Regions from separate parts of the Homo sapiens genome. Here regions 1 and 2 are each linked to region 3. Evidence: fine-mapped expression QTL. A gene starts in region 3. Each other region holds a variant in brackets. All regions are shown on one strand. Distances are between the middles of the regions.

Region 1 (8,175 bases), 210 kb after region 3:
AAGATACATCCCTCTAAGCTGTAATCATCACAAAGCAAGCTATAATTTTAGAAACTGATAGTTGGAAGGTATTATGTGTTAACAATTACAGTCAGGAAACTGGTGGTCAGAATGGAATGAAAGCAAAGAAGAATTAGTTAGAAGACAAATGGGATTTAGGTGGGATTTGGACTCTGCAGAAAATCTCATGGCTGCCAGATTCAGCTAGAAAAGCTCATTATCAGTGTTTAACTTATTTTTTCTAATGCTAGTATATGTCCCCTAGTTTCCTTTGTAGTCACACCTTGAAGTGGAAGTGCCCTTTTTTTTGTTTGAGATGGAGTCTCGCTCTGTCGCCCAGGCTGGAGTGCGGTGGCACCATCTTGGCTCACTGCCAGCTCTGCCTCCTGGGTTCACGCCATTCTCCTGCCTCAGCCTCCTGAGTAGCTGGGACTACAGGCGCCCACCACCAAACCCAGCTAATTTTTTTTTTTTTTTGTATTTTTTTAGTGGAGACAGGGTTTCACCGTGTTAGCCAGGATGGTCTCGATCTCCTGACCTTGTGATCCGCCTGCCTCGGCCTCCCAAAGTGCTGGAATTACAGGCGTGAGCCACCACGCTCGGCCAAAAGTGCCCTTTAAGTCAACAGTCTCACCTTTCAGGGCAGGCAGATATGAGATATTACAAATATATTGTAACTCTGTGGAATTAAAGTTGACTTCAGAATACAAACTTCATGTACCAAAGTAGCATTAAGTTTTCTCTCTTCAGAAATGCAAATCAAAACCACAATGAGATACCATCTCACACTGGCCGGAATGGTTATTATTAAAAAGACAGACATGTATGTGGGACTTTCATTTATCAGACCCCAGGAACTCAAGCTTTCATGAGCCTCTGGGTAGACAAGTACCAGCCCTAATCCTTGGGATGGATGGAGTATCACAGGGAGCAGGCAGCCCAGCTATACAACCTGGTGCAGGGTGGTGAGTTTCCTCACCTTTAAGTGTATGGACCATCAGGTTCTGGAAAAAAGACAAGTGCTATGTGTGTTCTACATCAACTTTATGGTGTTGGAGTGGAAAAATTGAGAATTAAATACCAGACCATCAGGACTCCATCTAAAAAAATTGAAATTAGCACCATTGCAAGTAATTACCACCTTGAAGTTAATCCCAGTGATGCTGGAAATATTGATGAGGTAGTAATTCAGAAGATGTTGAAAACAGTGGCTCAGTCACAGCAACTTGAAACAAACTGTCAGATATTTTAAAATGGTATTATTGACAGAAGTTGACAAACTCATCAAAGATGCTCAACATGCCTTGTAAAGAACCATGGGAAAGTATATGTCCACCTACAGATTGATCTTGTGCCACAGTTCTACATCTAATGTGATACTACCTATTTGTAGTAGGTGCTTGGCAGTTGGTGTGCCTGCTCCCAGCATTGGAGATATTTACCATGTGTTATTTACTGTGTACAACAAGGAAGATCTGAATCTTCCTTCACAACTGACTCATAGACTTGCAGAAAAGTCCTGCAGAAACCTCACAAAAGCCCTGCTTATGTGTGAAGTAGGATATCACTAGAGACCTCATGGACATTAAAAGGTTGATAAGAAAATATTATAAATAAGTCTAATCATATAAATTTGACAATTTAGATGAAATAGAGATTCCTTAAAAGCCACAAACTGCTGAACTCACTGAGAATATATATATAATATATAATTAATAAGTATATGTGGGTGTAACTTATATATTAAACCATTTCTATTGAAGAAATTGCATTACTAGTAAAGAGAAAAATCAGAAAGTCCTGAAAAAGAAAACTTTCTGTTCAGATGGTTTCACTGGCAGTGTAGAAAAGGCAAAATCTGCAAGATTGGTAAAGAAAAATTCCCTAGAGAAACCTGAGAAAAACAAGCAATGGGGAAAGGATTCCCTATTTAATAAATGGTGCTGGGAAAACTGGCTAGCCATATGTAGAAAGCTGAAACTGGATCCCTTCCTTACACCTTATACAAAAATTAATTCAAGATGGATTAAAGACTTAAACATTAGACCTAAAACCATAAAAACTCTAGAAGAAAACCTAGGCATTACCATTCAGGACATAGGCATGGGCAAGGACTTCATGTCCAAAACACCAAAAGCAATGGCAACAAAAGCCAAAATTGACAAATGGGATCTAATTAAACTAAAGAGCTTCTGCACAGCAAAAGAACTACCATCAGAGTGAACAGGCAACCTACAGAATGGGAGAAAATTTTCGCAACCTACTCATCTGACAAAGGGCTAATATCCAGAATCTACAATGAACTCAAACAAATTTACAAGAAAAAAACAAACAACCCCATCGAAAAGTGGGTGAAGGATATGGACAGACACTTCTCAAAAGAAGACATTTATGCAGCCAACAGACACATGAAAAACTGCTCATCATCACTGGCCATCAGAGAAATGCAAATCAAAACCACAATGAGATACCATCTCACACCAGTTAGAATGGCAATCATTAAAAAGTCAGGAAACAACAGGTGCTGGAGAGGATGTGGAGAAATAGGAACACTTTTACACTGTTGGTGGGACTGTAAACTAGTTCAACCATTGTGGAAGTCAGTGTGGCGATTCCTCAAGGATCTAGAACTAGAAATACCATTTGACCCAGCCATCCCATTACTGGGTATATACCCAAAGGATTATAAATCATGCTGCTATAAAGACGCATGCACACGTATGTTTATTGCGGCACTATTCACAATAGCAAAGACTTGGAACCAACCCAAATGTCCAACAATGATAGACTGGATTAAGAAAATGTGGCACATATACACCATGGAATACTATGCAGCCATAAAAAATGATGAGTTCATGTCCTTTGTAGGGACATGGATGAAATTGGAAATCATCATTCTCAGTAAACTATCATAAGAACAAAAAACCAAACACCGCATATTCTCACTCATAGGTGGGAATTGAACAATGAGAACACCTGGACACAGGAAGGGGAACATCACACTCTGGGGACTGTTGTGGGGTGGGGGGAAGGGGGAGGGACAGCATTAGGAGATATACCTAATGCTAAATGATGAGTTAATGGGTGCAGCGCACCAGCATGGCACATGTATACATATGTAACTAACCTGCACATTGTGCACCTGTACCCTAAAACTTAAAGTATAATAATAATAAAATAAAAAAAAAAAAGAAAATCCCCTAGGCTAGGCGAACTTTTCTTTATTACTTGGTCTACCTCTAAGATTTATCCAGTCAGGCTTTACAGTGCTGTAGTTACAGGAGAAGACCTGGAATGCTGGTCCCTGGTGGAGTAAAGGAAGGATCTGTCCACCCAGAGAGCTTAGCCCTTTTTATAGTCCATACTATGAATACTGAGGACCTTGGAATTCCTTTCTCAAGTGAGCCTGAGCTTGCTTCCAGGGTCTCCATGGGTCTCCTTCTGAGTTCATCCCTATACTCATGAGTTGTCCTCAGAAAGTGTAAACAGAGCTTGGACAGGGTTAGAGGTGTTCACACAAACATGCAGGAAGACCTGTGCAGGGCAGAAGGGAGAAGAGAGTGAGAGGAGGGAGACCCAGGCCTCAGCTGGGAGCCAGGGACTGAAGACTGGCTCTCCTCATTAGACCCTTATGTTCTAGTGGGAAATTCCATGGGGTTTGAGAATTCTAAACTTGAACTTGAAAGTCATAAAGGCATATTTTTTAGGGTAGGAAGAGAAAATGCATTTTATTCAGTCATTTGTTAACTTGATGAATGGCTTTTAAATATCTAGGCATAGGGTAAATTGTATTCATTTGTACTCTTGTCTTGGGTCCCACAATGTAAGCACCAGGATGGGTTGGTGAGGGGGCTTTGTTTACTAACAAATTTTGAGCTCCTAGAATAGTCCCTGGCACAGTGGGCACTCAATAATAATTTTGAATGAATGTGTAGATGAATGAATGAGTTTAATCTTCCTATGATCCCAAGAAGAATTCCAGATATAAAGAAAGTGGCCTAGTTGAGGGTGAAGAATGGGAGGAGGGAGAGGATCAGAAAAAATAACTATTGGGTACCAGGCTTACTACCTGGGTAACGAAATAATCTGTACAACAATACCCCCTACCCATGATGCGAGTTTACCTATATAGCAAACCTGCTCATATATCCCTAGACCTAAAATACAAGTTTTTTTTAAATAAGAAAGAAAGTGATACGTGGACATAGAGTGTAGAATAATAGTCATTGGAGACTCAGAAGGTTGAGAGGAGAGAAGAGAGGTGAGGGTTGAGAAATTACTTAATGGGTACAATGTACACTATTTCACCTATAAATATGTTCACATAACAAAACTGCCTTTTTACTCCTTGAATTTATACAAATTATTTAAAAGGCAAATATAAGCATACTTTGTTAAAAAAAGTGGTAATAAGAAGTTACTGACACTTGATAGAAGAATGAATATATAAAGGATGACTTGAGAAGGAAAATCCTTTAGGGTGTTAGACATAAGGAATACGCTCTTATTTGCTCTGATGGACCGTGTAAAACTTAAATCTATGAGGCCATCTCAGAAGAGCCACCTGGGCCCCAGTGGACTGTCACAAGCTGTGTTTCAGGAATACCAATCTTAGTCATTTCCTTGGAACTTGTTAAACCTCTGCC[A/G]TGAGCCCCAACCTTGAAGTGATGCAGCAGTGACTCAGACAGCCTCCCTCCCCTCCAGGACTTTATTCAGTATCTGCCTTGTTTGCCAATGAGAGGCTGATTCTCAAAAGAAACTTTGGCTCAAATACGATACCTGAACAAAGAATCTCAGCATTGAAATAACCAATGGTATTCTTAGAAGAAAATAAATTTGAGAACGTAATGTAAGAAGTTGTAGTAGAACATGTTTGTCTCATGCCGATAAAACTTCTCCATTTACCATTTGAATCTAATTGAAACAGCATTTTCAAAAAATCCAAACTAGTTATGTGCCTGTAACACACAGTCATGGTTATTACTCAATTTCAAGATGAATTATTTTCAACCATTCACTATATCAAGGGGAAAATGCAGCCAACAAGCAATTTAATTATTTAAAAGAACATTGGAGCAACTAAACTTTTTCTACAATTACCACATGAGTAAAACAGAAGGACAGAAAGTAATGTGTTAACTGTTTGCCATTAAAATGGCTCATTGAGTCTCTAGCAATCATATGGTACAAATAGGACATTTATATAACATGCAAATACAGTGCCCAGAAAAAAATCAGCGGCAAACTTTCACACAGCTCATTGACTTATGGTCTTTAATGAGGAAGCCACAATGGAGCAATTATTTCACTGATAACACATTTATTATCGCTGTAATTTCCTCCTTAGCTCTGTTAACTGTATTATTAAATAAATAGCAATACTCATGATTTCTTTTAAAATGCAACTAACTGCTATGTAAAGAACAGTGAAATACGATATATTTATAAAAAATGAATATTTGTTCACATTGTTTTTGAGTTAAAAAATCTGTCCCTTAAATAAGACAAGCAGACACAAGATACTGAAACCTGACATAAAAATAAGTTTTTATGTATATATTTACCCAATGTGCACAGCACAGAGCTATAGAATTGCTATTATTGATTATTCAGCAAAATAACATCTTTTGCCTTGATTACATGTTTATAAAGGAAAATTGAAAAACTCATGTAGATTACAAAGCTATTACCATAACCATTCTACTATCAACATAGAACTATGAAAAATGCAATTTACAAAGTGCTAAGTACACTTGTACACTGTACCCTATTATACTTGTATTAAAGTTATTGGAGAAAACAAAAGAAAAATTATTCTAAAATTGGAAAAAGGAAAGAAAAATTTCCATAAAAATAAAATTTTGATATGTAAATGGGATTAGTAGCATAGTAAGTTAATAATTTTCCAATTTTAATTATTATCCAGAGTTTGCTCTTCAGTTGACTATATGCTTTCTGTGTGTGTATGTGTGTGTGGTTTATTGCTATAGCATTGTATGTATACAATCATCATTATATATCCTTAACAGACATAGAAATACTAGAAGAACGTAATCACTTTTTCTTATGTTCGGCTTCCTTAACTTATCTTTAAATATGCCCATGCCATTTTTAAATTTATGTTATTATCATTTTTATCTCTAATATATCTTTTTTCTTCTTTTGTTTTTTTGACAGGATCTTGCTATGTTGCCCAGGTTGGAGTGGAGTGGCACAATCTTGGTTCACTGCAACCTCCACCTCCTGGGCTCAAGTGATCCTCCCAACTGAGCCTCTCAAATAGCCAGGACTACAGGCATATGCCACCATGCTTGGCTAATTTTGTATTTTTTTGTAGAGACAGGGTTTCTCCATGTCACCCAGTCTGGTCTCAAACTCCTGGGCTCAAGTGATCCACCCACCTTCACCTTCCAAAGTGCTGGGATTACAGGCATAAGCCACCATGCCTGGACTATTTTTATCTCTAACATTTCTTTATTTTTCTCATAGTCTTCCTTTTATTGCAACCATTTGCAATATAATCAAAGCACTATTTTTGCTTTTTATCACCTATGGATATTAATTCTTTTTATGTTTTCTTCTATTCGGAGTATTGCCTCTTTTTCTTCTGTTTTTTTCTCTGTTTTTTGAATTTTTTCTCTGACCTTCATGTTAAATACTTTCTCAAATGCTTAATCATCCTAGGCTCTTAGGAACATACATCAAGTTGATATTTGGCAACTCGCCATGTGATTTTGTCTGTGGGGCATACGGTGTGGTAGTCATGATGGTGGTGGGGCAGTAGTGCCTGTCAACTGATACACTTCATTGTAGATTGATCAGAAGGAAACCCAGGCCATTTATTTGTGGGATTGCCAAAGGTCAATTGCTGTCAGTCTTGGATTCTTTCACCTCCCATTCAAGTTTGCTGTTATAAAGCTGACTTTGGGGTTTAGGATTTGAATAGAGAGAGAGAGCTGGGGACTCAATTTTCAGCAGACAGATTTTCTCTTAATCCGTTATTTTCAGTATCGGAACGTCACCCCCAGCCTTCCTTGTACCTCGTATTCTCAAGGCCCATTGCTTTTTCAGTTAAGACCTTGGGAGAGTAAACATCCAGGCTTCTTCCAGAGTGGAGGAGGGACAGGTCCTTGGGGTTCTAGGAAAGACAAGGAGATCTAGATTTCTCACTGCTCCTTAATCAAACTTTCAAGTACGTTTTCTGTTTTTCTGTTCCCTCTGACTTTCCTGACTTCAGAAGTACCTGATGTAATAAATATGTGTGTATCTGAGGGTGAGATGGGGCTATGGCGAGAGTTATCTTGCTTATTTTTGGCAATTCATACCCAACCACCACCAGCAGCTCACATGTTATTGTGTCTTCTCTATTATGTCAGTTAAATTACTTTCTACTTTTATTTATCCTCCATTCTACTTTTCCCATTCTCTCTCTCTTATTTTATGGATTTCTTGCACTTTAATGGGATATAGAAATCTCAGAAATAGTTATAGTAATAGTGGTAGTATGCTATTTCTAAAAGCTGAATAGGGAGTGATGAGAAATCAGGAAAAATCAACAAAGAAGGGCGGTGGATTGGATGGTCTGATGGCCTGTGCCATCAGATCTCTTTAAATAAAGAGATTTTCCTTGTGGGGGTTTGTGAAAAGGGAGGATAAATAATCCAGCAATAAGCATTAAGAACAGCTAACCCTCTTCCAGGCCCTGCAGTACTTGGGTTGTGAGCAAAAGAAGCAGCTATCACTAAGAGGGTTACCAAAGAAACAATCTCCTTGAGGTGGGCCAGGTGCCAATGAGCTCTGGAGGTGAAGGAAATTCAATAAAAAAGAGGCTGAGGAAGTTGGGAATTTTGTCAATGCCACGTGAAGTGTTCCAGAAGGCATAATGGAAAGGCTTGGGAGCTTGGTAAAGAGTAAAAATTTGGCTTAGGTTATGAACGTTCAGAGTCCTGTGAGGAAAATATCCTAGTGCTAATGGATGACTTGAGTTGTTTGGACAACCAGCAGTGACCTAGATAGTGATGGGTGTAAGAATTAAAGGGCTTGTCCTGGTGGTTCATGGAAAAGATGAGTGATCACTTTTAACAAGAGGAGGCTTCTCAGGACTGGCCTTTTGTGTGATTGGGATTGGTGAGACAGGTGATGGTGTGGCTACAGGGACTAAGCCAAGAGTATCAG
Region 2 (8,175 bases), 20 kb before region 3:
AACACCCTCATAATACAAGGGAGCATGATTATCACAGCTCAAGGTTTCAGAGCACATGGTGGAGGGTTGGAACACTTGGGGAGTGTGGCACAGTAAGTCAGGGGTAGCAAGCTCAGGTAGGAATGGAGATAAAGCTGAAGAGAGAATTGGTGGCTGAGGGGTTTGCATTCGGGTTTAAGCATGGGTGGCCCCAAGGTGAGGCCAGCAGCTTGGTGCAAGCCTCCTTCTTCATTGAGGGCGACCCTGCTGGCACAGGGATCTCCTGAAGCTCAACTACAACCTGAAAACACTGTCCTTTCCTATTTCATAGTTTTAAAGTAAACAAGAATCGTATGATATTTTAAATTTTTCAGATAATATATTAGGATGGCACAAAAGTAATGTGGTTTTGCCATTTAAAGTGATGACAAAAACTACAATTACTTTTGCACCAACCTAATAGATGCATTTATAATAAAGAATATATAATAGCTGTATATTATATAATTTATAATATCATCAATCTTTGTATTCTATACACAAACAATTGGTAACAGTTTGGTGCGTATAATTCCAGAAACATTTCTGTGAACTTACTAACATATATTTACTTTTATTTAAAAACATCTATCATCTATTTACCAATTTTTATATATTTTTTACATGAATGTGTACACATGTTGTTTTGTGACTTTCTTTGTTCATGTCAGATTATAGGCATATTCATAACAAATTTTAATAATATTTTTCCATGCTGTGGGATATAGTATATTGTACTTAATCATTATAATTATGATACTGATAGAAATTTGAGGCCTTACTAATTTTTGCTGTTATAAATACTGCTGCATGAACATTATCATACATATGAGTATTTATATACATGAGCATAATATGATGTAAACTAAGATTTGTGGGTGCTATTATCAGCTGGTAATTGTGCTAAGTGCTTTGCATGTATTATCTCATTTAATTCTCACAATTACCCTTTGAAATAGGTTTCATTATGATCCCAATACTACACGGGAAGAGAATGTGCCTTAGAAAGTTTAAGTAATCTGCCATTAATTTCCTCAGAAGAATGGTAGACTGAATTTGTCAATTTGCATTTTAAAAAAGACTTGTTGGTATATGATTGGAATCAACTTGAGCTTACATATTTATTTAGGGTGATTGACATCTTTACAATATTGAGTCTTCTCATCTAAATGTCATGTTTTTCCATTTGTTTAGATCTCCTTATTTGTTTTTCCATAATGCTTGCATGTTTTTTCACATAGGACCTACATATTTCTTGTTAGAGATATTCATAGGTGTGTCATAGGTATTGTTGGTGTAAAGGAATTTAATGGAATTTGTGTTTTGTATTTTGAGCTTGTAGCATACAGAGTTGTGTTACAAGATAAAATATAAAATACCTTTCAAGTCAGAGTCACTGTGCAAAATTGCTTTGTTAGTGCTTTATCCAGGATTTAATTTCTATCTATGCTCTTTTGGGAGACATGTTGATGACTTGTTTTTTTCAGAGTCATTCAAATGACTCAGTATTGGATTCCAGATTCCAGAATGAATAGACTTTCTGCTCAGAATCTGAAACCATGGCACCCTTGACTTTTACTCTCAGTTTGATGCCCCTCTGAGTTTCATCATGATAAGGTCACCTGTTTCTTAATTTCTGGAAATATTAAGGATTTTATCTATTTTTGTAGTTTATAAATGTCACATGATTTTACTAATTGTGTATGCAGAATTCTTTCCATTTTATTTTTCATTTTTTCACATATCATTTTTACATTTTTTGCTTTTACTGTGTGGCACTTCTATTTTACTTTCATTGCTCATTCCTTATTGAGTCCTTTCAATTTGAACATATAACTTTTTTTCTACTGAATTTTTAAAATTTTTTTCTATTAAAAAATTTTCCACTAAAATGGAGGTGAAGAGATAATTAAAAATAAAAATAGAAGAAAATTGAGAATTAAAAAAAAACAAACTGTTTTTTTCCCAGTGGAGATGACTGACTGGTTGACCTGTGTCAACTTTCAATATTTCAAGACCTTTCTTTTATTAATTATCTGTCGTTTGTTCTATGTATTGGGAGATTTTCCAACTTTATCTTTCATTTATCTGATTCAGTCTTCAGAATTGTTCATTCTATTTTTCAGGCCTTGCATTGATTGTTTTTAAATTACTTATTGTAACTGACAAAAAAATTAGACAGAAATCTGATTTTTCCAAAAAATTCATTCCTAGGCATTGATTGTACCTTTTTAAAAGAAATAAAAAACAGTTCCTTTGAAATGGTCACAATACTTCTTGAATCTCTCTGAAGATATCAATTAGAAAGTTTTCAAGGCTAGCCATAATCCTTGTGTTACGTCTTATTTCTCTGGGTTAGCTGTTTGGTTTGTGCACAGTGGTCCTTTTGGTTTATGCTTTAGTTGTCTGTTCATATTTAAGGGTGAATAACTAGCTTGATCATATGGGTAGCTAGAATGAGTTTCCTCTGCAGATAAGACTCTGAGTAGATAATTCCCCTGAATCCATCTGAGGTGGGAAGACGGACAGGCCAACTTTGCTTTAGGATACGTGGGTGGGATCAAGCAGGCAGGATGGAGACTCCCACAAATGCCAATGTATGGAGGCTTTTACTCTGGAATTTGAATGTTTTCATTTATACTCCTTCTTATTATTCCTGTATAGAGCTGCCTTCTGTTTATTATTATTATTTTCTTGCAGTTTACAACTTTTGAAGTCTAGAATTATCTTGGACTCTGTTCCCTTGCCTAGCCCTTAAATCCATTTTGGGTGACTTCCTAGGCTAATGTTAGATGTTGTTTAGACAGAAATCTTGAGCCTTTAGCATTGAGCAAGTTAACTAAGTGCTGTAAGCTTCTAGCTCTGCATCTGTAGAGTGGGCACAAAACCAAGGCTTCTTTGAGAGGGTTGTTGTGATGATTAAACAGAATAATGCATACAAGATCGTATGTAGTAACTGTCCAGCACATGCTCACCTTCCTTCTTCCTCACCGCCCTCTTTCTCCCCATCTTCTTCCTCGCTCTTCCCTTCCCTTTTCCCTTCCTTCCTTCTTCTTCCCCTCCATGTCTTGTTTCTACTTTTATTATTATCATTATACCAGGATTTGGACCATTTTCTAATTATCTTATTCATTACATTATTCACTCTTTCTTTGGCTTTGTAGGGAATAGAAGTTAAAAACATATGTAAGAGCTTTTCCTACAAGCCAATACTGCTTCAGGAATATGAATGTGGAAAAGTTTAAAACAAAAACAAACAAACAAACAAACAGGGACTTAGAGTCAGAAATGAATCTCAGTGTAGACATATCAGGCATGTGACCATGGGCAAGCGGCTTTACTTTTCTCAGCCTCCACCTCTATAGTTTTGTCATCTGTGAAATGAGACTAAATAAAATGATGTACCTAAATCACCTTGCACAGCAAGTCCAAGTGAAATGTCCATCCCCTTTCCCCTTCCCTTTCTCTTGTTCTGCCAAACTGTGCCATGATGATCATGCTGCAGACCTGCTTCGTGGATGAGATCTGTGTGTGGGTACATGGGGCCCAGCACTTAGATGGACCCCAAGTTTGGTTTAGTGCTTTTTGCTATTGCTGTCTTGAA[T/A]TTCTTCAAAATGTTTGAGCAAGGAGCTCCGATTTCCCTTTGCACTGGGCCCCGCAAATTATATATCTGGCTCTGCCTTCTGTGATTCAATTCATTAAACAATTCATATTTCTGTCTTGCTAGTAGACAGGGAGGAAGCAGGTTCCCAGGTGCCCAAGGACAGCAGCTGGGGAATCCTGTCTATGGCTGCAGCTCTTCCAGTGTGATTTCTACCCAAGTTCCTAAAGCAGCCAGTGCGGGCTTCCTTGGGTTCCCTGCAGCATTTCTAACTATAGTTCCAATTTGACACACTGGTTATTTTCTATCGAGGTCCTTAAGGTAGCTTTCTGCAAGGTTTTGGAAATAAAGCAACTCATTGCCTTTTTGTTAATGACTTTTAAAAGAATGAGCATTTTACTGAGCATAAGAAACCCTCTAAGAATATACTGGAAAAGGCAGGCTCATGCTGTGGATGAACAAGAGTGTGTCCTTCAATGTGAAATCCCTGCCAAGGAAATGCATAGCTGGGAGGTTCCCTTTGCCTCTTTCATGACCTGGCTGACCATCTGTTCCTTTATTTCCAGAAGGAATGGAGACTCTTTTCCACAAAAAGTGACTCCAAAATGTAAACATAGGTACATTTTTAGAGGCTTGACTCCTGAGTAGTTTCAAAATAAACACAAAACATTATAGGGAGGTTTCAGTGAGCTAATCTCAGCCATATGAAGCCGACATCCTTTGCCTTCTTTAACCAAGTCCACAGCTGGGGAAGAAGGGATGGTGTATGAAAGGTTGGACTAACCCATTATGGTCCTGGCACTTTCCTCCTTGCTACATGAATTAATTCTGGCCATCCATGGAGTGACAGAGGCTATAATCGGAGCCCTTTCATATGAAGGGAATATCTACAGACAAGCCTGGGTCAAGAGAACACTTGCACGTAATTATGGTCAAAGCAATAAACAAATAGGATGGATATCACAGGCACTCAGAGTAGGTATTTACTTCTATGGCAGTGGTGCTCAAAGTCTGGTCTCTGTATTACTAGCACGAGCATCAGCAGAAACTTGTCAGAACTGCAAAATCTCAGCTCTCTCCCAGTACCTACCAGATCAGAAACTCTGGGGATGAAGTCCAATAATCTGTGTTTCAATTGGCCCTCTAGGTGATTCTGATGCACTTCAGTTTGCAGCCAACTGCTCTATAACATTCTTGAAGGTCATTATAGAATGTCCCAACCCAGCGTATAGGTCTAAATATTCTGTCTTGTGGATTTTGCTTGTAGTATGTGTGTGTTATTGCGAGAATAATTCAAGCTCTGTGAGCCTCAGTTCCCTCAACCCTAAAATCATGGGGTTATCTGTGATGATTTCAAATGTTCCTTTACATTATATTTTCAGTGAAATGAGATTCAGAATGCTCCATTAAGGCTCTCGAATAGTTATATAACACGTGGACAAATGACCATTTGACAGTAGCTGAGCAGCAAGTGCTGTGTGTCTATTTATATATTTCTATCTCTGTATCTATCCATTTATCTCTCTATTATCTATCTGAATCTGAAACATAGTAGCCCAGGTTTGGGAGTCAGGTGACCTGAATTTGACAACGAACTACTTATCCTGTGTGAAACTGAGAAACTCGCAGGGGATGAGACATTGAAAGCAAAGTGTTTAGTGCTGGGTCTTGAGCAGGAAAGCTTCCACAGGTCACTCACTATTACTTTACTGCTTGTACCTCTTTCGACCGGGGCATCAACCCACCCCCTTTTAAGTACTTTAATCCTTTCTTTCCATTTATTAATTTCCTTCAGTGTTTTCCAAAGCACTTGCACATGAGTGCCTCCATTTTGCCTGGGGCTGCCTAAGTCGTAGAATTAGCAGTGGCTGGTCAAAGCTGGCTTAACCTTGAGGCACAATCCAGGTTGACTCCAGATCTGGGCTTTGATTTATCTATGACTTCAGTGTCAGTTGGGAGACCATTTTAAAAAACTGAATGTATATGAGTCAATTTAATTGAAATTTTTCCAAGATTCTCGAGTAAGTTACCCTAGAGCCATGGTTTTTTAATAAATTGAGTTATTTTAGATTGAAGGATGGCCATATGAGGGGACAAGATCACTAAGGCTGTCTTAGGAGAGCAGGGCAGCTGGGCCACCTGTCCTCCATCACTCAGCACTTTAAATTGGCCAAATGAAATCTTGCCAAGTGCTATCCCTCCCCTCCAAATGGTGTTTTCTGAGAGGAAACACCCTCCCTGAAAATCTATAGTTCACACTTTCTGCTATGTTACTCAGTGTCGTGCTAGGGGTAACCACCCAGTTCCTAGGGCCAAAAGCCCTTATAGACTTATGTCAGGTGTCTATCAACCCATTGTCAAATGCAGCACTCTTCTTTTGAAGCAAAAATTGTAATAAAATTCCGAATATTGGAGCATGGAAAAGGGAAACGACTGCTCTGGCTAAAGAGGCACAGACAGGAACCCACTGTAGAGGGTGCTGTGGGTGCCCAATCCAGACCCTCCCTGTTGGGGCCCTTGCCCTGTCTCCCAGTGGCTTTGGCAGGCAGATCTCTCTTCCTTTAGAGAATCACCCTCAACTAATGGGAACTGTCCCCTTTGGGAGATTGTACTCCCCTCCCTCTTCCATTTCTAGAGCCAAAGACTAGCTGACACAAAGTTAAAAAAAAAGTCCTGCCATATTTCCTTAAGGGAGGGGCAACTCTGGTGCACTCTGTACCCCATGTGGGTCAGGCCAAGGTAAGACTTCACGTGAGACCACATTCTTGTTCAGCCCTCTCTCCTGCTGTATCCTACCTAGGGTTTTCTCCTGACAGCACACCTTCCATGAATTATATGCTTCTGAACCTCAGGCTCTGCTTTTTAGAGACCTCAACTAGAGGTGAGGAATAAGGGATGATAGAAAATCTGAACTCAATACCTTCCACAGCAACAGCAACCTGTATGTCAGAAGGAGGCTCCTTCAAGTCAGATGATATGATCTGATGGGTGACTGTTTTCTTCCCTCCCTCCCTTCCTTCTCTCTTTTCTTTCTTTCTCTCTTTCTTTCTTTCTTTCTTTTCTTTCTTTCTTTCTTTCCTTCCTTCCTTCCTTTCTTTCTCTTTCTTTCTTTCTTTCTCTCTCTTTTTCTCTTCCTTCCCTCCTTCCTTTCTTCCTTCCTTCCTTCCTTCCTTCCTTCCTTCCTTCCTTCCCTCTCTCTTTCTCTTTACCTCTCTTTCTTTCTTTCTCTCTCTTTCTTTTTCTCTTCCTTCCCTCCTTCCTTTCTTCCTTCCCTCCTTCCTTCCTTCCTTCCTTCCTTCCTTCCTTCCTTCCTTCCTTCCTTCCTTCCTTCCTTCCCTCTCTCTTTCTCTTTACCTCTCTTTCTTTCTTTCTCTCTTTCTTTTCTTTCTTTCTTTCTTTCTTTCTTTCTTTCTTTCTTTCTTTCTTTCTTGCTTTCTTTCTTTCTTTCTTTCTTTTTTAACATACCTTCATAGATGGCAGTAAAATAGTCTTACTACAAAGCTCATAAACTGGCAGGTAACATTTTAGTCTGACCATCAGGGGATGAGGTCAAATTGCTGCTCTCTTCATGAGCTTCCTTCTGTTTCACAGCTGCTGCCCAGAGTCTGGGAACCAGATGCACGGGCTCAGAGAGCTAGATTCAGGCTCTTCATTTAGCTGTCCAACCAGGCTATGGACAAACTTACCAGTGAAGGTCCAATTGAGAGCCAGGAAAGATCCTGCCATGGAGCTAGATGGCTTGGCATTTTGCTCTTGGCTCCTCAGACACAAGTTTTAAATATCTCCCATCATCAACACTATAATGTATTACAAATTGAGCTTAGGTTTTTTTTTTTTTGCTGCCTGCTGCATGCAAAAGTCATCCTATCGGCAATCTATGAAATAAACTTTGCCAAAATAATCCTAACCACAAGAACGAACAAAGAAATAACATATGAAACAACTTATATTGCTTTTTCAGACAAGCTCATAAAATCCTTGAAATTCTAAGAGCACTTGGGTGATCCAAAGTGGATTGAAGTTATTCCTCCTGGAAGGAAGATTTTTCACAATGATTAAATATCTGCACAATTTGGAGGCTTCAGTAGTCTGAGTGGTGGTCTGACATGAGGCCTCTTGATTTTACATCATGTTCTTTCTTGTATTCATGGGAAGAAGCATAAACTGTATGCTTTATTTTTGTAAACTGGATTTTTCTTCTTTTGCTATTTTTTTGGTCTCATGCAACATATTCATGACACATTTATTTTGATCATTTTCACTTACAGTATATATAACTGAATAGAAGAGATAGTGCCCAATATGGCAGCTTAAAAAGATCCACTCAGATATTTACAATAATGAAATCTTATATTTGAGAATTTATTTCTTCAATGTTAATTAGAAGGTCAGATCCATCGAAAATAATGACCAGTAAACTGATCAACACATTAAGCAACCAGCAAAAATGTATTAATTAAATAAGTCAGTACCAGCAACTTTAGCTTAATTGATTTGTCTTCTAAACAAGAGTTAAGAAATTTCAAATCTATCAGGAACTCAGTATCTGACAAAAA
Region 3 (8,175 bases):
TATATGTATGAGATATGCTGGGCACAAAGTAGGCACTCAATAAATAATTGCTGATAGATGGACACAGAAATCTTTCTGGGAGATTCAGGGCACGTCTTCATGGTTAGAGATTTCTTTTTCATAGGTTGGATTGTGGTCCAGGTTCAGAAATAATCCTCCAGGAATGAGGGTCACTTTGGTCCGTGGCTCCACTAGGGCACTGGGTGGCTTATAGCACCATTTCAAAATCTAAATCACATGCTGGTGAGTCTATGTCTTATCTTCTTGGGGATGCAAAATAGCTGAAGTGAAGTCTCATTGTAATCAATTAGCATAACTAAAAGCCCAAAGAGGTAAACTCAGTTACATTATGGTAATGTCAGTTGTGGTTATTGAAATTATTCCAATGATGACATTTGGGGTTGGCTGGTGGTAGCAGTCATCTGATTTGAAACAAATAGAGAAAATAAATAATGGTTTATGTTTGTGTATGCTTATAACAAACATATTAGGTGTATTACATATTCTTAGGCCTTACAAAAAGCACACCAATTGGGTAGTAGCAGCCCCATCAGCATCCCCATGAGGAAGCTGAGGCTTTGAGGTATTAGGCATGTTCACAGAGGTGTGTCAATCTCACCTTTGATATTGATGATATTGAGGTGTGATTCCTCAATATCATCAAAATGTGACCTTGTGTCATATAAGTGATGACAAAGAGATTTATAGCAAACCTTCACATTAGACACTAGCAAGCTTTCTATGTTGTCAATAAGTCAGTAGGAGAAAAGATATTCATTGAAATAAGGGATAATGGGACATGAAATTTTTGTTTATATTCAATGGTCTCTGTCAAGCCCTTAAAAAATAAATTAGGCTGTCATCTTTCTGAAATAGTTAGTGGGAAGATAGAAGGGTATGATACATCAGTGGCTTTCAAACTTATTCAACTCAACTAATTTCATAAAGAAGAAAACCCACAATTACATTAAACTATATTATGACTTGTGCTTACAGAAATTTGCTCTGAGGAAACTGTACTGGGATACCAAAGTCCAAGACGGGGTTTGTAGGTAAGGGTATTGCCAGTAACTATCTGTGTGATCTCAGGCAAGTCACTGCCCCTTTTTGGGCCTCAATTTCCTCAAGAAAGAGAAAAAGGACATTAAGATAACCTTTGAAGCTATAGACCCTTTGTGAACCTGAGATAAGCTATAAATTCTTTCCCTAGATGATGCATATATGCATGTACATGGACAACTTTGAATGCTGGTTCGGGTTGTTCACAGATTTTCCAAAGACTATTTGTGGGCTTCTAAAGAATATAGTGGCCCTTAGCTTAAAACACCTGAAATATGTGCTAATTGGGATTATAGTCATGTTTATGAAAATAAAATGAAAATAACCCTTATCCTTGAGAGATGTAACCTGATAGCATATTTACGGGTGAAGTTATTTCATGTCTGGAATTTGCTTTAAAATGATCCAGTATGTGTAGGGTGGTGGTGGTGGTGGTAATACATAAAACAATACTGTCCATGAATTAATTGTGAAGCCACATGATTAGGTCCATGACAGTTCTTTATACTGTTTTCTCTACTTTTGTGTATATTAAAATTTTCCATAATAAATTTTCACAGTGAAAATGATCTAACCTTTCTTGGCTTCCACTTCCCCATCCATAAAATAGAAATATTAACAGAATCTTCTATTGTGAAGATTAAGGTTGTATCTGACTTACAGTAAACATTCAGTAGATGCTCACTATTGTTCTCGCTCAACTATGTAAATATATAAACAGATTTAAAAAGACATGAGATATAGATCAAAGTTTTATTAGTAGATGCTTCTGGATGGTAAACCAAGAGCTAATTTATTTTTCTTTTCATCATTTATGTCTGGACTGTTCAAATATCTACAAAGAGTATTTGTTACTCTTATAATAAGACAAAAAAACCTAACTCTTTAAAAAAAGTAACTTTAAGTCTTCCTTGAGAGAGTTTAATGCCAAGGGGGCCTGAACCATGTTTGTCCCACAAGATATTTTACAAACAAGACCACTTCATGGAAGAGTAAGATGGAATGCATATTACTGTCTTGTTCACATTTTCCTCACCAAGCTCTCATGCTCAGGGTCAAAGATCCTTGTAAACGCCAGTAAGCTTTAACATGTGGCCTTCCTAGAATAGAATGAATTGAGCCTTCCTCTCCTCCAGTGTCATGCCATCCTACTCCCTTACCTTACCACACGTTCCTCCCTACTAGCAGTTTAGCCTTTTTTAAGGGGCATGGATCACTTTGAGAATATCATGAATGCTATGCCAAGAAAAATTCACATGTAGGCATACAATATTGCATTCAATTTCCTAGGGTTCATGGGCTGCCATAGTTCATCTCCACTAATTAAGCTTACTGAGGCCATGACATCAAATTTAGGAATGTAGAAACACACATCCGGTGTATAGACCACTTTGAGAAAAACTAATTTGTACAAAACCATAAGCCAGATAAATTGGTGGATAATTATGGGCATTACATATGTGGCTTTTGCTCTGCCAAATAATTTCCATTAGGACATCTATAAATAGCAAATCCATATAATGCATTTGAACCATGCCACTGTTTGCCCAAATGCTAAGCCCTTTCCAGAACACGCCTACTGCAGAGCAACAGGCCAATTCAAAAAGTTCAATACTAGTTTTACTCTTGAGTTCAGCTACATTCATTTATAGAATTCTAGCTTTCCTCTAAAATGGCCACTAACCTATATCACTCTGGGGACTGATGTTCAATGGGAGGCAATGATACCCAGAAACTTTTTGACTGAGGAGAGGTAGTGCATGTGTATGGGTTATCAGATTGCTTTGGAGTGGATCATTTGAGATGAGATAGATTCCATCTCTTTATCTCAGGAAGGAAAAGGATAAACATGATTGAGTCCTTACAGTATACCAGGTGGACATTAGGGCCTCTCATGTACTCCTCACAATGTCTCTGGAAGTTGGGGCTTTTTCCCTCATTTCCAACCGAGTTTTAGAAAAGTTGACACACATACCCCAGGTCTGGCAGCCAGTAAGTAACAGGAAAAAAATAAAAATAAATAAGATGTAAAGCTTTCGGGCTTAGATTACCATCATTGATGGTTAACTTCAGGGGGCTGGGAAATGTACAGTGCCCAGTATCACACCAAATCCCCAGAGCCACTCAGGCTGTGATTTTCATCCTCCTGATCATATCAATGGCTTCCAGGGATGCATGTGAAGAGAGACAGGATCGCAGTCTTCCTTGCCCCATCTGGCCTGTCCCTATCCTATAAACTGGCAACCCCTTTCCTTTGCTGGTATACACGGACTGCCTCACATTCCCCAAATGCCTGGGGATCGCACAATGAAATCAGAATAAAGAGCCAGGAGCTCTACACTTAAAAGAATCCACATAACTACAAACTCCATCTTAGGATTTCCACCACCAGCTGAGTTGCCATTTGGCATTGCACTGCTAGCAGCCACATTTTACTCTATCCTCTTCCAAGATTTTCAAACATGTGCCTGGCACCCACGGGAGTTTCAGAGGAAGTGTAACAGTGACAGGAGAACTGCTGCGGGCTTGGTTTTTTGTATACGTGTTAGTGTAACTTTCATAAAAGCAAGTATAGGTTCTTAGAGTATTAACTTTCACAAGAGGAACATCAACTTTCAGACAAACGCAGGCAAACCCTTTCTTTTTCTTTTTCTTTTTTAGTGAGTAGTATCTGAAGGTAGGGGTGATCCCTGTTAAGCAAAAGGTCTCTGAGACCCTTGGGATACATACATGCTTTTCTGGCCCAGTACTCAAGCTTTTCTGGAAGAGTATCCCTCGGCTGTCTCCATCCCTCAGCCTTCAGAAGCCACCTAATACCTACCTACACGTGCTTTGGACACAAGCAGGTTCAAAGCACAAAAAAAACCAAGCTACCACCCCGCAAGAAATCGATCTCTGAACCCGGAGCCACCATGAATTGCGTGTGTGAATGTGTGGGCGGGAAGGCTGGGTCCACAGGGACGTGGTCCAGCATCGTGAGCAGCGGGTCCTACCGGACGTTCAAGTCCTACAGCCCTGGGCTAACTAGCAAGTCTCAGACCCCCACGCCCGTGCTAGATAGGAGGAGAGACAAAGCTGGACCGACAGGAGAGGAGAGTGAGTTTGTGTTCTCTTGGGGGCAAGCGTGCTCGGTACCTTGGATTCCTGGCTGCTGGTGGATGCAGGAGAGGGCGGTTGCTCGGCGCCCACCGCCTCCTTGGGCAGCCCGTCCACGCCGTCCTCGCGGGGGCTGCTCGGAGGGATCATCGTGGCCGCGCGGGAACGGTGTTGGGCTCCCGGAGGAACAGCGAGGCTTCTGTCCTGCGCGCCCTGCCCGCCGCGCGCCAGGCTGCTCAGCTCCGGGTCCTGGGGACTCCCATCCTCGCCGAGGCGCCGACGTGCCCTCCTCCAGCCTCGCTCCCTCTCCCTCCCCGCCCTGCCCACCTCCCCGGCACTTCCGCGGGCGTGGAGGAGAGTGCGCCCTGCCCCGCCCCGCCGCGCCCGCGGCCACCTCGCCGGCGACCTCACAGTCGTGACTGCCACTCGGCAGCGGGCGAGCGGGCTTCTGCTCGCCCGCAGGAGGAGGAAGGAGGCGGGGAGGCAGCTCCAGGGCGGGGCTGCGCGGCCAGCGCCTGGAGTAGTGAGGGCAGGCAGGGGGCAGCGCCCTGGAAAGGGCTGGGGGAAGGCTGGGCGCACGCCGGCACTGGGTGGGGGTGATTCTTCAGAGAGGATGCTGAAAATTCAGACCCAAACCCCAAAGAATAGAAAATCTGTGAATGATATAGCCAGAAAGAGCCACTTGCAACAACTCCCTCATTCCTCACCCCAACGAATAGTGACTGAGACAGTGACTTAGCTAAGCTATTTATAGGGTTCAGTGACAGAGAGCAGGGGTCGGAGTGGGGGTCCCCTGACTCACGGGCACTGCGTTTTCTCCATTCAGCTTTGATCTAAAGCAGAGAGATAATGCAGTGTGTATATGGACACCTGTTCCTCGTTTGTTGTGCACTTATTGTACTAAACCCTTTCTTTTTACCTTATTTAATCCTCCCAGCTACTCTATGCGTCTAGGGATTATCACTTCCATTTTATAGATGAGGAAGTTGAGGCTGTAGGAAGACTGAGTAATTTGCTTTAAGTCACTAAACTATAATTGGTGAAACTGGAATTCGAACACATTTGGGCTTCAAAATCCATGCATTTCCGACTGTGGAGCCTCAAATCTAGGCCAGGTCTTGGCTGAAGAGCAATTGGATGTTGCAGTATAGCAAGAGTTGAGGACTGTTCACAGAGGGGCAAACCAGCCTGCCTTACTAAATCTTTTGGAAACATAGGAATAGCCCCACTGAATAAAGATACAGAGGGTCCAGTTTCTTTTGAAGACAACCTCAGTGTGCAGGGAAAAGAAACACACCTAGATATTTAAAAGCCTCTTTTCCCCCATTAATACAAAATACCCTCAATTTTTTAAAACAAAATTGCAAACTTCTGTTCAGATTTTTAAAATTAGCTGTAGATGTTTGCAAGAACAGCTTCATGGATGTGCAACCTGTGCAGTCACACAGGGCCCCGCGCTGATGCTGCCATCTTGAAATTCGGTAAAAATATTTAACAAGAGATCACATTTTCATTTTGTACTTGACCCTGCAAATTATGTGTTTGGTCCTGCATCCATGCCCTAGCTCATGTCTTTTAGAATAAACTTGCTCTTACTCTTTCCATCCCAGATGTCAATTGAAAGCTACTGTTCAATGTGTCAGCCTCTTACTCAGCATTTAGCTTTCAAAATGCTCTAAATTTTCTGGTGACCCTCAGTACGGGGCCAGATTGGCTAGCCCAAATGGCTTCAGCTTTTTCCTTCTCACAACACAATGCCTGAGTGTTCGATAGAGACAGAATTCTAGTAGCCAAAGTCACAAACACAATGACAGGAGCAGCCATATCAACACATTTTTATCAAGCATCTATTCTGTATCAGAATTGTGCCAGAAACTAATGATACAGCAGAGAGAAAACACAGATTAAGTCTGTTTTCCTGGAATTTAAGTCTAGTGGGAGAGACAGCAATTAATTAAATCACACACACATTTAAAAAAAAACTATGATAAGGGAAAGTACAAGACTTTGATGAGTGTGTACAAATGAAGCCTGAGCTAGCATGGGGCCAGACGAGGGTTTTCTTAGGAAACAAAACTCCCAGGGTCTACTGGCAATTCCAGTCTTGGTGAGCAAGCATGTCATGGCTTAGAACAATAAATTTTTCATCCTTTTTTTCTTTTGGATTTTCTTTTTTTAAGAATTGAAGATGTCATCCTTACTTTTAGTAAGTGCTTAGCTCAAGTTAGCAACAGTATTAGCCAATAGTATATGTTTAAATGTTGTCCCTTGAAGGAAATTTAGAGAAGCTAGTACCTCCTTCCTTTCCACCCCACCCTGATCCAGCAGCAGAAATCCTTAGTCTGATAAATAATACCTACCATAGGAATTAGCCATGGTGTCCCAAACTAAATCACGCCTTTGTTTATGTGTTAGTTTCACATTATTTTCTATCCGATCTTTTGTTATCTAGCTAACTTATCTTATTCTTCAAATCACATATCCAAGTATTTACTACTCTTGACATCTCCTTCCTTGACCCATTTATCTGATTTAGATTCCCAAATCAATGCCATGTTCCCATGACTTCCTTTCCTAAGTAATCAATGACAAGGTTGCCTGCTCTTCTGTTGGGCTATGATCTCCCCTAGGGCAGGGGCAATGCCATGTTCATCTTGTTTCTCTAGCTCCTGGTATAATGCTTGTTAACAAGGTGGTGAAAAGAGGCTACCCTTGTAGCCCCTGAGCTCTAGAAATGGTCTAGGCATTAATTATTGCATGTGTCCTCCACAAACTGAATGGAAGAAGACTCTGAATGCTTCTGTAAAACAATGGGATTTGTCAGTGCTTTGAGTCAGTAGATGGTAGACCAGCAAAGTGATCCCCAGAGTACCCCTCATGAAGCATTGATATCCCTGAGCAGAAGTGTACATTTTCATGGCTATGTGTGAGATACCCCATCTGACACCCAGGAATGCTTAGGTGAGACCTCACAGAAGACTGGAAATTCTGCCTTAGAAGCTTTATGACATTTTAGCTATGGTTGTCAAGATTTCTCATTTCTACTGCAGTCTGGTAAAGCCTGAGGAAAAAAGGTTGTGAATAATTATTCTAAGTCTCAAGTCTGTAGCTTTGTGATTTTTGTAGATCCCCTTCATGGTCTATTTCACTCTGGTTTCTGGGTAAATATCAAGCCAGCAGAAGTGTGAGGTGTACAGAAATTTATCTGCACAAACTCGAACTGGAAGCTCCCACTTCTGGTTCATTTACTTGTTCATTAATTTGTAAAGAGGGCAAAGGCCTCCTCCTGATTGCATCCAAGGGCCTTTCACAGTAAACACCGTTAAGCAGAAGACTGTGTAATGCTGCTAACCTTCTCTCATTTCTTTGTTCTGAGTTTGTATAAAGAGACTGGATTTCATCCTATGGACCTTGGCTTCTTATAGAGCCATTTGGTAAAAAGATACTAGTAAGACTTCTTAAATAGAACAGATATACTTATGAAGGGTACAGAAAAGAACAACAAGAAAAAAGAAGAGGGAAGATAATATGGAGAACTGTTGAGGATAAAGGAGAGGATCTCAAGGAAGGGATGGCTCTCCATGCGTGATGCATCAGAGTCATGATGGATACACAATATAACACAGTATACGAGAAAGGCGTAGGTTGCTGATAACAATAATAGCTAACATGTATTGGGTTTCTAATACATCATAGACATTGTATATTTGTTCTTTCATTTAATCCCTATGAAACCTTAGCAAGATAAAGAAAATTATCCTAGGTTCTACAGTTTAGGAAGGACTCAGTTATATCCTGCTCCTGGGCCAAGTTTTGGCCGCTCTGGTTTGCTGCCACCTAGGCAACAGCAGAACCCGGATGTCCTGAAAAGGCAGCAGGCCTTAAAGATTAGGAGCAATGCAAATTGAGAGCCAGAGGCATAATAGAAGGCACAGGGCAAGTTCCCAAATAATGAAGAGTGGTCCATTCCATTCTTTTGTCTTAAAAGTAAATAATGAGCATCTCTACACTTTGGAGATG

Evidence for each region.
Region 1: its variant is fine-mapped to the expression of STAC in fibroblasts (GTEx, PIP 0.95).
Region 2: its variant is fine-mapped to the expression of STAC in blood mononuclear cells (TOPMed, PIP 0.91).

What each region holds. Positions count from the first base shown.
Region 1 is chr3:36,163,142-36,171,316 of GRCh38, reverse strand. It overlaps the pseudogene RFC3P1. Among named protein-coding and RNA genes, the nearest start is that of STAC, 210 kb to the left of the region's middle. The variant A/G (reference allele first, on the strand shown) is at 4,647.
Region 2 is chr3:36,397,195-36,405,369 of GRCh38, reverse strand. All of the region lies in intron 1 of STAC (SH3 and cysteine rich domain), which reads right to left. All of the region lies in intron 2 of LOC124906227 (a long non-coding RNA gene), which reads left to right. Among named protein-coding and RNA genes, the nearest start is that of STAC, 21 kb to the right of the region's middle. RefSeq lists an enhancer at 6,351-6,851. The variant T/A (reference allele first, on the strand shown) is at 3,623.
Region 3 is chr3:36,376,774-36,384,948 of GRCh38, reverse strand. STAC (SH3 and cysteine rich domain) reads right to left here and starts at 4,445. Exons shown (of 11, transcript NM_003149.3): 1 at 4,195-4,445. The coding sequence starts at 4,305. All of the region lies in intron 2 of LOC124906227 (a long non-coding RNA gene), which reads left to right.